Regions from separate parts of the Homo sapiens genome. Here region 2 is reported to be linked to region 1. The links are microRNA targets in miRTarBase. Many come from high-throughput screens and were not tested one by one. Region 1 holds a microRNA gene; the other region holds the end of a gene's coding sequence.
Evidence for each region. Region 1 holds the annotated microRNA hsa-miR-4795-3p (AUAUUAUUAGCCACUUCUGGAU, at 4,682-4,703, shown strand). A microRNA usually pairs through its seed, bases 2 to 8, with sites in the 3' UTR of a target mRNA and lowers its output. Matches are read on the target gene's strand: a 7mer-m8 pairs with bases 2 to 8, a 7mer-A1 pairs with bases 2 to 7 and ends in A, and an 8mer does both.

Region 2: the mRNA of CREBZF is a reported target of hsa-miR-4795-3p. Seed matches in the 3' UTR shown: 7mer-A1 at 2,728-2,734 and 7mer-A1 at 4,941-4,947.

The regions. Positions count from the first base shown.
Region 1 is chr3:87,223,777-87,230,901 of GRCh38, reverse strand. It overlaps MIR4795 (microRNA 4795), which reads left to right and starts at 4,625; the gene lies at 4,625-4,713. It overlaps CHMP2B (charged multivesicular body protein 2B), which reads right to left and starts at 3,593. Exons shown (of 6, transcript NM_014043.4): 1 at 3,346-3,593. The coding sequence starts at 3,379. RefSeq lists enhancers at 3,382-3,501, 3,572-3,641, 3,692-3,741, 3,832-3,891, 4,002-4,141.
Region 2 is chr11:85,657,382-85,664,506 of GRCh38, reverse strand. It overlaps CREBZF (CREB/ATF bZIP transcription factor), which reads left to right. Exons shown (of 1, transcript NM_001039618.4): 1 at 1-6,517. The coding sequence ends at 696. Among named protein-coding and RNA genes, the nearest start is that of CREBZF, 4.2 kb to the left of the region's middle. RefSeq lists enhancers at 115-404, 515-754.

The sequences.
Region 1 (7,125 bases):
ATAAATTAATTATCAGGATCAAATGCAAAACATAGGCCCAAGAGATGTTCACTAATAATGGCCATTAGATTTGACAATCTAGAAGTTACTGATGATCTAAGCAACATCTCATTGCATGCCATGCAAGGCAAACTGCTGTAAGGTGGGGGAGGCAGTCTGTTAAGTAAAGAAGTGGAGATAAGACATCACTACTCCTTCAAAAGGTTTAGATGAAAAGCAAAAAGAAACTGGCCATACTTTCGAAGAAATGCTGTGTCCAGGGAGAGTCAGGAGTGGGTTATTTCCAGTTCCACCACCATTAGAAAGTAAAGTTCTACCACTAATTCCGAAAGAAAAGTCTGGTTCCAGAAAGAATGTAAACGTTGCATGGTATCTACCAAAAGTTGAGAATTCCATGTGCTTGATAAGAGCAAAATTAAACTGTGTCATGTATCAATCTCTAATAAGAAAAAAGTAATAATAATACTCAAAGGGATGAGGTCCTAGTTCTGACACTTAATAGCTGTATGATCTTGAACACACGACTTAGTCCTTTGCTTTTCTCATTTTATAAGGATGTTATATGAGTACTTATATGTTTTATGAGAAATAAGACATGGCATGCACAATGCTTAGCACAGTGTTGGCTTAGTCAAATTTGTCTTTACTGAGGTTAACAGACAAAAATTATATAGTGTTTAAAGAACTTCACTTTTAAGCATGTTTAGTTGTGCATTTGTGACAAGTCCTAGTGGGATCCTGATTTACAGGTTCATAATTAGCTTCCCTAAATAGGTCACTATTAATCTACAAAGGGGGAAAATAAACACTGTAGGTAAACATAACACACTATATATATGTATATCCTTACACAGGTAAAAGAAAAACCAAGTAGTACTCAACTGTAATTTCAAATTCCAAAGAATCCTTCCCTTCTCTTGAGGTATACCTCTCATTAATTTCTACAGCAAAGTATACACCGCAGAGACTTGTTCATCTTTGTGTCAAAATGAATTAAACATAACTCTGAATAGTAATAAGTGCTGTAATGTTGTCTTCCTTTTAAATTTACATGTGCAGTAGTCTTTAATGATACAGTATATAACTCTTCCAGCCAATCCAAACAGGAAAAAAGATTCAATTATTCCCCAGATCTATAGGCAGGTACATGTTTCCCTTATATATCAGAATTTCATTACTGCTGGAACAGATTTAAAAGTCAGCATACAATAAAAGAGCTCATGATCAATCCAACGATCTGAGAGACATAAAAATACATTAAACTTCATATTCATAATATACAGCCTCATTACCAAGAAGAATGCTGTCACCTTTTAGACAAAACAAAAAAAAACTTCCTTTCAATAAAACAGGGAATAAAAAAAGTAAAGCTCTATATCAAAATAACGAAAATACAGATCTATTTATTAAGATGTCAGTAAATGACTGGAATTGACACAATAATATAAGAAAACATCAAGTATGCATCTTGGTAGTTTATAGTAAATGTACCTGCTGGCCAAATTTACATTTGGAAATTGCACATATGGTTAATTTAGTGGCATAGTTCCTAGCAAGAGTCCTTAAGACTCTTTTACAAATAAGTCTATTCAGCAAAAACATTATTTCTTGGAAGAATTAACTGCAAATGAGTATACAGTTAAACACTCATTGCACATCCCCATTGTCTTTTTTTCTCTCCTCTACACTTCAAGTACAATAGTCACTAAATTTCCAAAAGCACCAGGAAGCACAGAACTGAGATTTATGTCTTTGAAAATATTTGACAGGTATTAGGCGATTAAAACTAGTATGCTTGGCTTTTATTGTTAAAAAAAAATTAACTCTAATTGTAACATCACAGTAAAGGAGATGAAACCATTTTTTCTCCATTTAGTAAATTCTCACTATATAAAACTAAACAACAAAAAAAAACTGTAACTATATAAAACTCAAGCAAAAAGAAAATAAATCGTTCCCCCACCCCCACTCCCTGGAGTACTGTAAAATAAGTGAAGCTCACAACAGTGGCAGCTAAAACACTGAAAAAATAAAGTGCCATATTAAAGATTAAGCAGCATTCTCATGAAAAGCACACATAAAATCCATTTCACATCACTGTATCACCTAATATACGAAGTTGGTAGTTATTCCAGGTATTGCAAATGGTACTTAATAAAAAGTCAATAAATCAAAAAAATGTTCAGTCACCCAGAGTAAGGAAAAATGTATTATGTCATCTGATAAATTAGAGGTAAAGTAGATTATGTGTTGAAATGAAGTGTACAGCAGCAGAGCAGAGATGACTTCTTTGTTATCCTCCCCAAAATAATTTTGCTGGCATTGGAATAGTCAACACAAAGGAATGAAGGAGTTACGTCCAGGTCTGGACTGAGCACCCTATTTGTACCAATCACTGTCTAGCTACCACTGCTCCTTTTGTGGCAGAATTAGACCCTTACAAAGAAGTGATTCTTTGGTTGAACCAGCAACAACCTAGACTAAACATATAATGGGGAACACAATTTTTAAATAACTTGAATGAATTTAATTCCTGGTAGCAATCAATGAAAACATCAAGTGTTATATAAACACATTATAGGCATCGCATATGAGCACCATAAAACTTGTACATTCCTTTACATTCACTTTTTTCCCCGCTTAAGATGATATTAAGCTAAATGCGGGAAACAACACAATTATCTTTACATGTTAAACTTCTATGAAGACAATATATACCCCATCTCTTTCTTTAGTTGGCAAAAAATAATCATAAGGGAGAAAAATCCATTATGAAAACTAAATCTGGGCACTTCCCTTGGGTTTATTTTTCTACTGGGGTTAATCAAAAAAGCATTTGTTTCACATCTCTTTACTGATGGGGTGTTCTTAAAGAAGCAACTGACCCAGACCCAACTTCATTTCCTAACTGGAGCCTGTTATCCCCTCCCTCCCCATTCCGAGACTGCCAGTTTCCTGTATGGATGCCTACAAGTAGTATATCGCCCAACTGAAGAGCAACAATCGAAGCAGAGGAAACCAACAAGAAATCCATCAGATTTCCAAGTTTATTGACACTCAAGGGCCAGCTAGCCTCCTCGAAACGCTCAGGATCCTGCTGAGGAAAACCCGAGGGTGGGGGAATCGTGAGGATAGGGAAGCAACCAGACTGCCTAGGTGAGCCTAAGGTGAGGTGAGTCAGAAGCAAGAGGGAGGCAGAGAAGTGGTGCCGCGAGGGCGGTCACCTGTGGGACCACTTGATCCAGCCCCGCCTCCAGGGACAGTAGGCAGAATCGCGGCCAGCAGGCCTCGAAAGACGCCGAGAAAACGCAGAGCTGGGCCCCTTCAGCCCGGCCTGGAACTCACCATCCACGGTTTTCTTCTTGAAGAGGGACGCCATGGTTAAAGACTGCGCCCGGGCGGCCCGGCTCGGCCCGGTCCGGCCCAACGCTGGCAAAGGACAGGAGGAAAAGGACAGGACCTTGGCGGGTTCGGGGTGGCGGAGCGGAGAGACAGCAGGAGGAGGTCGGGGTCGCCAGGCAGGACCCGCGGAAGGCTTGTATCCGCAGCTACCGCAGCCGCGTCACCCGGAGCTCAGGTGACCGGGAACTAACACACTTTTTGGAGAAGTCACTTCTAGGCGGCGCCTGCGCGTTGTGTGGCGCCTGCGCACTACGGAGTTTGAAGCCGCGGCCGCTTTCCTCACGTCTGCGGCTGCCAGTTCCTCCTGCACCGGGAGTTGGCAGCGGGGCGAGTCTGGAGCTGGCGGGGATAGGAGAGCGTGGGGCCACGGCTTCTGTGCGCGGGTTGGGTGATGATTGAGGACAGTGATCAGCCTTGCTTAGCGCTTCACCCCTTGCCCCGGGGAAAGCTGGATGAGGGATCTCCGGGCTCCTAGACTAAGTGTGGGTTGTCCCGGAACCGCCTGTACCCACTCCGAGTTGATTTATTACGGTCCCATTGCTGTTAGTATTTTTGTTGTTGTTGTTGTTGTTGTTTGTTTGTTTTTACTCGAGTAATCCAGGAACTGGCGGAAACGTTGAGTTCCGTACCCGGTGATTGTTGGCCCCTGGAGTTCGCGGTCCTTTCGGCACTGACTGACTCGGCGACCTCCCCCGCACCGCGCAGACCCCTGCAGGACCCTAGCCGCTCACCTGCCGCCCCCGGCTCCAGACTCCGACGACCCAGCGTGGGTCTCCGGGGATCCAGTGTCTAGAGTTGGGGGGGTCTCGAGGACGAAGGGAAGTTTTTTAATGCTACACTTTTTGTTTAAGGTTCTTGCCTGGAAACATTAAAACACACACACACACACACACACACACACACACACACAAATTTGTAGGCTGGTCTAAATGTCTCCAGCTCTATTTCTTAATTTCTTGTAAATCATGAATCATAAAGTGTCATGGCTATACGGTGATCCTATTAGAATTCCTCACAGCCGTTTATTTGGGCTTTTTGTGAAAAACTGCATATCATGTTAAAGAAAAAATGTAATGAATTATTTAAAGAATCCTTGCATGTATAAAATGGAAAATACAACCTATGCGTGCGTACCTGTATATAGTCTCTACTGTTTAAAGCAACACTGCCTTCCACAGGATAAAAATAATGGTAGCATTTTTTTTTTCATAAATATTATCTCTGATATGGAAGAAATCCAGAAGTGGCTAATAATATTGACACTATAACAATAATGTCAATATTATTAGCCACTTCTGGATTTATGAATCATGTCTCAAGGATTATTATTTATGATAATCAGGCCAGCCTTTCCCATTTTTCCCCTCCTGAGATATCCAAGCCCTCATAGCCACTGATAATGCTGCTGCTGCTGCTAAAAGTTAGCTGAGAGTCTGTTCAAGAAAACTTTCTTAAGAATGACGTAGTAATATGCAAGATATAATTGTTTTGCTTCTCCTCAAGTTATTCTCGATATGGGAAGATGAAGTAAGGAAACATTAGGAAGACATGTAAGTGAGAAGATTTAGTCTCTGCACTCAAGACCGGGCCTTTTCTGGAGTGAGCTCTATGGCAGTTTGCCCTGGCTGTCTGTTGTAATGAATGGCATAGAGCTGTGCTTGAACGCATGAGAGGCAATAAGCTGTTATGTGTGTAGTAATCGTACTCCTCCCTGCTGCAGTCACCCTTGTTTTATTACTCCTATACAATCCCCCCCACTGACCCAATTGTAACAGTTGGGAAAATGCCAAAATACTTAGGAGCAACCATATGGAAGACCCTCCAAAAGTGCACAGCAGGAGCTAAAGACAGGGCTTGTTCATTACAATAAAGACAAAATAGAAATATTTACTATTTAAACTCAGTACTCTAATAGCTTGTTCTCCCATAGTTTGAAGAAGGCTGATATTCAGCTGATTGCACCAGTCTAGCTAGAGTCCATTCTGATTAGTTGGTGGCCACATTTCTCCTGTACACATTTTGTATTATTATATCGCTCCTTATTTAAAGGGCATGATACACTTAAATATATGTTGTTTTCTGGAGTATTTCATAACATAGTTTCCTCCTCTGAAACTGAAATATTTGCCATTTTTTCATCTTTGGGTACCTCGGGTTATAATTTGAATGGGTGCATTCTTCTCCTTGTTCAGCTTTTGAAGAAAGATAGCATAACATTGGAGAGTGCTGATTCTGGACACAGACTGCCCAGTTCTGTGACCAATTCTGTGACTTTTAAGTTTTAAGACCTAGGCCAGTTCACTGAAGCTCTCCGTGTTTCTTTCATCACATATGTGATAGAGATAACATTAGCCCACCTTTCATATATTAGGTTGGTACAAAAGTAATTGGCGAAAACCACAGTTACTTTTGCACCAACCTAATAGCTGTTGCAAGGATTAAATGAGTTAATATGTTAAACATTCAAAGTAGTGCTTGGCACGTAATGTCTTAGCCCCTCTGTGCAGCTACAACAAAATACCACAGACTGGGTAATTTATAAACAGTAGAAATTTATTTCTCACATTTGTGGAGGCTGGGGAGTCCAAGATCAAGGAACCCAGAGGTTTTGTTTCTGGTGAGAGCTGCTTTCTGCTTCCATGATGGTACCTTGCTGTTGCATCCTCAAGAAGAAAGAGATGCTGTATCCTCACATGGCAAGAAGGACAGAAGGGTAAAAGGGCGGTAGGCAGCTCCCTCACACCTGTTTTATAAAGGAACTAATCTCATTCATGAGGGCTCCACCCTCATGACTTAATCACATCCTAAAGTTCCCACCTCTAAAAACTATCACATTAGTGATTAAGTTTCAACATATGAATTTTTGGGGGGTACATTCACACCATATCACATAATAATCATTTTTGTATTATCTGTATTGTTGTTTCCAGCTGTTTTACCTTTTTATGCTTTCTCAAGTAATCTTCATGCTGAAATTCTCTTCTCTGTAGTACAGAAAACACAAATTGAAGATTTAGGCTTTCTGATGCTGATCTTGGTTACCTTCACCTTAACAGCCACCACCTCCCCAAATTAGCCCATTTCTTTCTCCTTAATAAAAAAATGGTTTTATTCTCAGCAAACTAACACAGGAACAGAAAACCAAACACTGCATATTCTCACTCATAAGTGGGGGTTGAGCAGTGAGAACACATGGACACAGGGAGGGGAACATCACATGCCAGGGCCTGTCAGGGGGTGGGGGGAAAGGGGAGGGAGAGCATTAGGACAAATACCTAATGCATGTGGGGCTTAAAACCTAGATGATGGGTTGATGGGTGCAGCAAACCACCATGGCACATGAAGACCTATGTAACCAACGTGCACGTTCTGTACATGTATCCCAGAACTTAAAGTAAAATAAACAAATAAATAATAAGATAATGGTTTTCTTGTTCTTAAATCTGTTATTTGTGTAGGAATTGACTTGTTATAGAAATATGTATCTAACATTGGTACTGGAAGGATTCGGTGCAGATTTGTTTCTGTTTGTCTTTTCTCCTCAGCTTCAATTTTAAACTCCTTGGGTTCAGAGAGAATCTCTTGTCAGGCCCTTCAATAATTTTCCTACTAGAATGTAAATATATTTAATAGAAACTTAATATGCAATCGTATTTTCATATTATCCATGTTTCAATGTTTTAACGCCAAATGACAAGTATATATATATACATTTGGTACATT
Region 2 (7,125 bases), not on the chromosome of region 1:
CTTAGCTCGCCGGGGCCTCTCTCCTCGTCTGGCGGAGGCTCGGATAGCGGCGGCCTGTGGAGAGGGGACGATGACGATGAGGCCGCGGCTGCTGAAATGCAGCGCTTCTCTGACCTGCTGCAAAGGCTGTTAAACGGTATCGGAGGCTGCAGCAGCAGCAGTGACAGTGGCAGCGCCGAAAAGAGGCGGAGAAAGTCCCCAGGAGGAGGCGGCGGTGGCGGCAGCGGTAACGACAACAACCAGGCGGCGACAAAGAGTCCCCGGAAGGCGGCGGCGGCCGCTGCCCGCCTTAATCGACTGAAGAAGAAGGAGTACGTGATGGGGCTGGAGAGTCGAGTCCGGGGTCTGGCAGCCGAGAACCAGGAGCTGCGGGCCGAGAATCGGGAGCTGGGCAAACGCGTACAGGCACTGCAGGAGGAGAGTCGCTACCTACGGGCAGTCTTAGCCAACGAGACTGGACTGGCTCGCTTGCTGAGCCGGCTGAGCGGCGTGGGACTGCGGCTGACCACCTCGCTCTTCAGAGACTCGCCCGCCGGTGACCACGACTACGCTCTGCCGGTGGGAAAGCAGAAGCAGGACCTGCTGGAAGAGGACGACTCGGCGGGAGGAGTCTGTCTCCATGTGGACAAGGATAAGGTGTCGGTGGAGTTCTGCTCGGCGTGCGCCCGGAAGGCGTCGTCTTCTCTTAAAATGTAGGGTCAAGTAATCTGCTCTTTATCCGCGTTTACCCCTTTCAACTCCCTTACACCATGTCAAACTTACCTTAGTGGGACATCTTCACCGGACACATTTCAGAGGAGAGAAAAAAAGTAATATTGAATCTTAAAGTGTTTAGCTAAAAGCATGAATGTGACACAGTAACCAACTCCTAATGATAACATGTGACTATTAAATCTCTCTGACAGTTTCTTTTTTAGGTGATTTCCTTCCTGCCAGGCTCCGTTGTAGGGGTTACAGAACAGTCGTTCCCGCCTCACAACCTGGTAAGGATCCATCTCTTCCCGTAACGCTCATGCTCTGCTGCTTTGTCTACTTTAATGGGCAACATCTCAGTTTGTGTGTGTGTGATTTTTTTTTTTTTTTCTGTTTTGGAAGGTGGGAGGGAAATCTAATTTGGGCCCTGTCCACCCTGGAAACAGACTTGTGCTGGTCAAGAATGTATTTAAGATGCCTCTTCTGGTTGAAATAGCTATTAATGTGTCCCCTTATTCAGACTTGCGTGTACCTAGCTCTTCTGTCCCCAGTGTGGACATGGCCTTGGATGACATCGGTTCCAACTGTACACTGAAACCTGCTTATAGAGAGACAGTTTGGAGACAGTGAAACAGGTGAAGTTGAATGGAAGTTCCGAGTTGTACAAGGTGCAAATTGGAATTCCGATTTTAGGGCAACTTTTCAGAGGTTGACAGTTAAGTATTTGGGGCATGCACAAATGTGATAGTTATTTTGCTGGAGGTGACAGGTATCTCTTAAATATCAACAATGCCTTTTAGTTTTCAGTATGAGATATAGAAACAGTCTATAATGGAGTAACATTTTAATGTCTCACCATTAGAGAAGTTGGAAATTAACATACATATGAGACTCCTGCGTTTTAGTTAATTGGAGAATAAGAATGGCTAATGTTTCTTTGAGGACCAGCAGTGATTACCCTATCACTGAGATTGAATAAATTGTTGAACATCTTTATTTTTGTTGTATTAAAATTTTAGGTTAAATTTATATATGTATGATTAGATATTGAAGGTTGTGAAATGTGAATGAAAACGTGTAAAGTGAGGCTTCACAAAGAATCTTATTCTCTGTGTTTCAAAAGTATTTGTCCTATTTTAAAATAATTTTTTAAATTGAGTGGTTCTGGCCACTTAAATGACACGATTGGTACTATTTTCCTAAGGTGGGATTTATTCCCTTGAATCTATTAACCAGTTGTATAAATTGAATTATGGTGTCCTTCAGTGTAAGAGGCATTAAGAAATTCTTTGTGAAACATCACTGCTTGATAAAGTATATACGTATTTAGCATCCTTGTTTTTCTTTGTGCTAAAGTGGATACAGCTGTTGGGGCAGAAGAGACGGGACCAGCTGCTGGCCACATTTCCTGCTTTATTTTAAAAGGTAGTATAAGAAATGAGGAAAAAGAGGTAATATCAGGGCTTCTGCTGTTTTTTATTTTTAACATGTTCATAATTAAAAAGTATTTTCCAGCAGTCCAAAGATGTAAGTTATCTTACACATAAAATGTTTTATTTTGTTATTTGGTTATGAAAATGGAATCCTTGTTCTTGCACAACTGTAAATGTTTTGTTGCTAGATAATACGATTTGAGACCTGAATTGGTCTTTGGTTTCCAGTGCATCACAGCATATTTTGTAAAATCATCTACTACTGCACTTGAGCATGAATGGGTAGTAGCCAAACTCACAAATTGGAGTGATGAACCTGCTTATACCTAAGGGCAGGAGCAAGCCCCTCACAATGCAGCTGCATGGGTTTTTAGTGCCTACTGAATTATATATATATATACATATATATATATATATATAAACCAAAAGTAGTTGGAAAGATTATTTGAAATGACTAATTTGTGCTATCTTTATGAAATATGTTAAATGTAGCTTTTTTGAAACAGAAGCCTTGAATTGAAATTTAACTAATACTTGAACATTTTGTATATATTTCTTTGTATATAATTTTGTGCAGTACCAATGACAAAAATATGGTGTCATAATAAAACCAGGTTTGTTGATCTTTTAGTTATGGGCTCAAAGAATTTATTCATCTCTAACATGATATTGGAAAATAATGGATGAAAATAGGAAAAATGATTGTTAATGCTGACTGTGGGTCTTAAAAGGTTCTGGAAAGCAGTAAGTTCATTTTTCTAAAAACTATAACATTCTGTTGGAGTATTTTCTTCCTTACGTCAATACTTTTCCTGCATTATTTGAAATTGTGGGCTGGGGAGAAACAGTAGTCAAAGCTTTCTGAATTGAGATACTTTGAAATTCCAAGTGTAGATTTTTAGAATGTCATTTTATAAATGGCAGTTTTTGGAATTACTTGATAAGAACTTTTGAAAATGGAAGGATTAGTATGGCCTATTTTTAAAGCTGCTTTGTTAGGTTCCTTATGTTTTATTAACTGTCTTTTCTCAGTTTCCATTTCATTTTTTTTTTTCTAGTTTTGGTGACTTAGTGATTTTGTCATTTTTTACATCAACTTCATGGTCTTGTTTTTACATGGTAATTGCATGTACTTAGGATCTATCTAATAGGGGCTTTAAATAAATTTGGTCATATTTATGTGTAAGCACATTTTACTGTAAATGTTTGGGTTTCTGAATTTAAACAGATCTGTTTATTTCAGTATGTAGTAAACAATATCTTAAAGTGTCCGATTCACTACTTGTTAATTAAAAAAGTTATGATTAATGTGAAACTGTTGTCTTACTATTTTTAGAAAATTGTGTTCTGGATGATTAGCACATGGATAAAGGAGATTTCTGGAATATAAAATGGATTGTTTTTGAAATTTCTAGGTTTGGCTCTATTTACTGTAATGGTTGAAAACAATTTAGTATTTGGGTGACCCTTTTGTTTTTCTTCTAAATGTGCCTCTGGTAAAATACAGAACTAGACTAAAGATGTAGCTTTTTAATATTTGTCTTTTGATGGTGGCAGGAGTTCATACATTAATTGAACTAACACATCATATTTTGACCTACTATTTCTATCATATTGACTTACTGTTTCTGCACTTCTTTGACCAGACTTATCTTAAAAAGTCCACTTTTGTTAAAATGTAGTCACACCTCTGATATAATCCAACAAGAAGTGTTCAAAATATTTTAAATATTTGTGCATTTTATAATCACTAAATTAATCTCTCTCTCTTCTCTTTGAACAGCTTAGCAGTGTCTGCAAAAACGAATCTTTTCCTACAACCTGTTAACTGACTGGACTGTTGGTAACAAAGTAATTGTGAGAACCATGTCGGTCAAAAATTTGGCATCTGCTGAAAAAAATGAATGCCATTTTCAAGTTCCCAAATTACTTCTATACTGATTTCACTTTCCAGAAATGGAGATATGAAAAGATTCTCTGGAATCCTTGAAAGACTTAATAGAGATACATGAGACTAAGTTAATCTTGGAACAAAATTATACTTTTTTTGTCTTTCATGGGAGTGATACTCAGTTATTGCATATCTTTACAAAATTGTAACCTTTGGAGAATTACAGTATTTCATCAAGAAATTAGAGTTTTTACATAATCAAGAGCATATTCTATGGAATTAACATTTAGTGGACTAGAATTACATAAGCAGGCCATCAGTGATCACAAGGCATATGAGTTTGTATTTATTTCCTGGAACATGAGAGCTAATTTGGAGTACAGACAGACACCCTGCTGAGTAGAATATAAAAGTTAATGTAAAGTTCTGAACTATAAAGAGTAGTCCTTTTAAATAGATGCATTGATTTGTATATCTTTGAAAAAGTTGATTATGATTAAATGTGTGGGTAGTTAATTACAATTTAGGGTAACAACCAGGATGTATGGATTCTTGAGGTTTTGGCTTCTTGAGCTTTCTCTTGAGTACTTGATACTGTTTTCTGAATATTTTGAGGTTTCTAATTAATGGTATGCTAGTTTCTACTGTTTTATATAAAAATTTATCTAGTGTTGTATAAGGACTTTAGTATTGTGGATGATGGGAGTGGCTTTTTGTGGCATATGGTTGTTTTAATTGAAATATTTTTTCAGTTTATTACAAGTGTGAAAAAACACTCAAAACTCTGGATTGTTTTATTTCATTTTTGTTGGATTATGTTAATACATTCCTTCACGTGGTTTAGATTGAGTCATTTTATCTCACTTACTTGGAAATGTGCAGCTGATAGAAGAGGGATTGGGTAGGAGATTGGCTTTTACTTCATAATAAATATACAGTTGGTTATTGTATTATTCAAAACTTATTAAATCCATTCAGTTTCTTACCATTTTAAGTGTATTCAGTGCCTGTGAAGCCAGGCAGCAGAGTATTCCCACTGGCTTAAAACTTAGGCGCTGATGCTCCTACAGTACAGCTAGTTATAATTCCAGAACCAAAGGCACCAACATTATTTGGTGACCTTAACTACTACTTTGATAGAACAGACTGGGTAATTCACTGATAATGAGTCATTACCTTTTTAATATGTGATTATCTAGTTCAGCATTTTGAATGTGTAGTTTAAGGTCTGATTTAGTAAAATTTTAAAGCTAAATAATCTGATGACTCTTGAAAGTTTAATTGGTAGTATGACATTTATGTTTTTTTCCCCCAGACTCACAGCCAATACAAAGTTTTGAGACTCCTAAATGTTAATATTTTTGCTGTTTTTCTGAGCTGTTTTTTTATTTACTTACCACCTAAGCTGCGGATCAAAAAGGGAATTCTTCCATTAGAAATTTGTAGTGTTGTGTGGCCAGCACAGTATTTTTCAGATTTGAATTTCAGTACCTCTGTGTAGCCTCAGTACTCTCAACACCAGTCACTCTTTATTGTCTTAAAATATTCCATACTTTTTGTTGACCCAAAATTGTTGAAAATATTTTGCTCAGTTTTCACAATGAACTAATTGAAAAGTGTAGTTACTGTGTTGTAAACATTTGTGTAGTTCTGTTAATACACTGATTTGAATTTTATTTATCTCAACTTCCTTTAGCGTCTGCCTCCAAATTTTGTCTTTGCTGTATACCCACTGAGATCAATTCCCTAGACCCCTCTGGCTCTTAGTGTACTATAATTTGGGCTTTATAAAATATATTGTCTTAATTTAAATAGAATGTGAGCCCTCTTTTTTTTTTTTTAAGCCAAATAACTACACAAAGTAAATTATAAAAGATTTAAATAGTTTGTCTACAGTGACTAGACTGAAATATAAAAATTGATTGAGGGTAGTTTACTTCAGGTGTTAGCTACAAATGACTAAATGTCCTTAAATAATGCAGATATCTGCCCTCTGAACAAAAATTTTGGCAAAGTAAATTTGTAGCAACAGACTTAACATGATTTATTGCTTATGTTGCCCATTTCTGCTAATGGAAAAGATAATTTAAAAATATGTGGCAGAGGACAGATATTAGAAATACTTTTTGGTTACAGAAACCATTGTAAACTCATCCTCATTTATAAATGGTATTATGCTAGGGAGTAATTGGACTAGGAATGTTTAAAGATAAGTAAGGAAACAATGTGTGCTCAATCGTCAAAGAACTTAGTTATATCATTGGGCTTTGAATTATCTAAGTTGATTACATAATTCTATATTCTTAAGGAGTCTTAACTCGGTACTTGGGTTAACGCCAGAAATTACTTTTAATTCATTGTTTTTTTCACTGGGATGAGTAGAACTCTGCTTTTAGTAAAAGTGACAGAATATAGGTAAAATGGATGATTTGGGATCAGAGCTTTTCATCTTGATATTTTAGCCTGTAAAATAAACAGCTATATTGTTTTGCCCTTTAAATGTTATATATATTTTTCTGTCTTTCTTTCCCTAGTTGTAAAAGTAAAGCATATTCTTTATAGAAAACTTGGAATATCCTGAAAGGAATCAAGAAGAAAAGAAAAATCACCCTTATAACTCTATAAGCCATAGAATATCCACAGTAAACATTTTGGCATGCTTCCTTTCAGTCTCTTGTGCACATAGATTCTTTTGCCTCATAACTGGGATCATTTTTTATATAAGTTTGGTAGATAATATATTTTATGTGCCTGTTGAAAGAACAAATCATCTTTGCTTTCTGAAAAATTGAGATTGTATTTTATTAATTTCACATGAGTTTTTCATCTTTGGCAGCACAGCTTTATGTTTTTCTTTAAACAGAAGCTAAAGGCCAGTTTCACTCACAAAGATGCCTTTTCTAAATTATAATTTTAAGTAGCATAAGATGACTTAACAGATATGTCACTATTTGGAAGTAATAATTAAGAGATTCATGAATAATCTTGGATGCCACTTAAAATTTTGTTTGGTACTTTTCTGTGATGATTGGCTTGCTTCATAAGTGTTGGTTTAGATCTACGCTGTCCAATACTGTAAGCATTAGTCACGTGGCTAAACATTTTAAA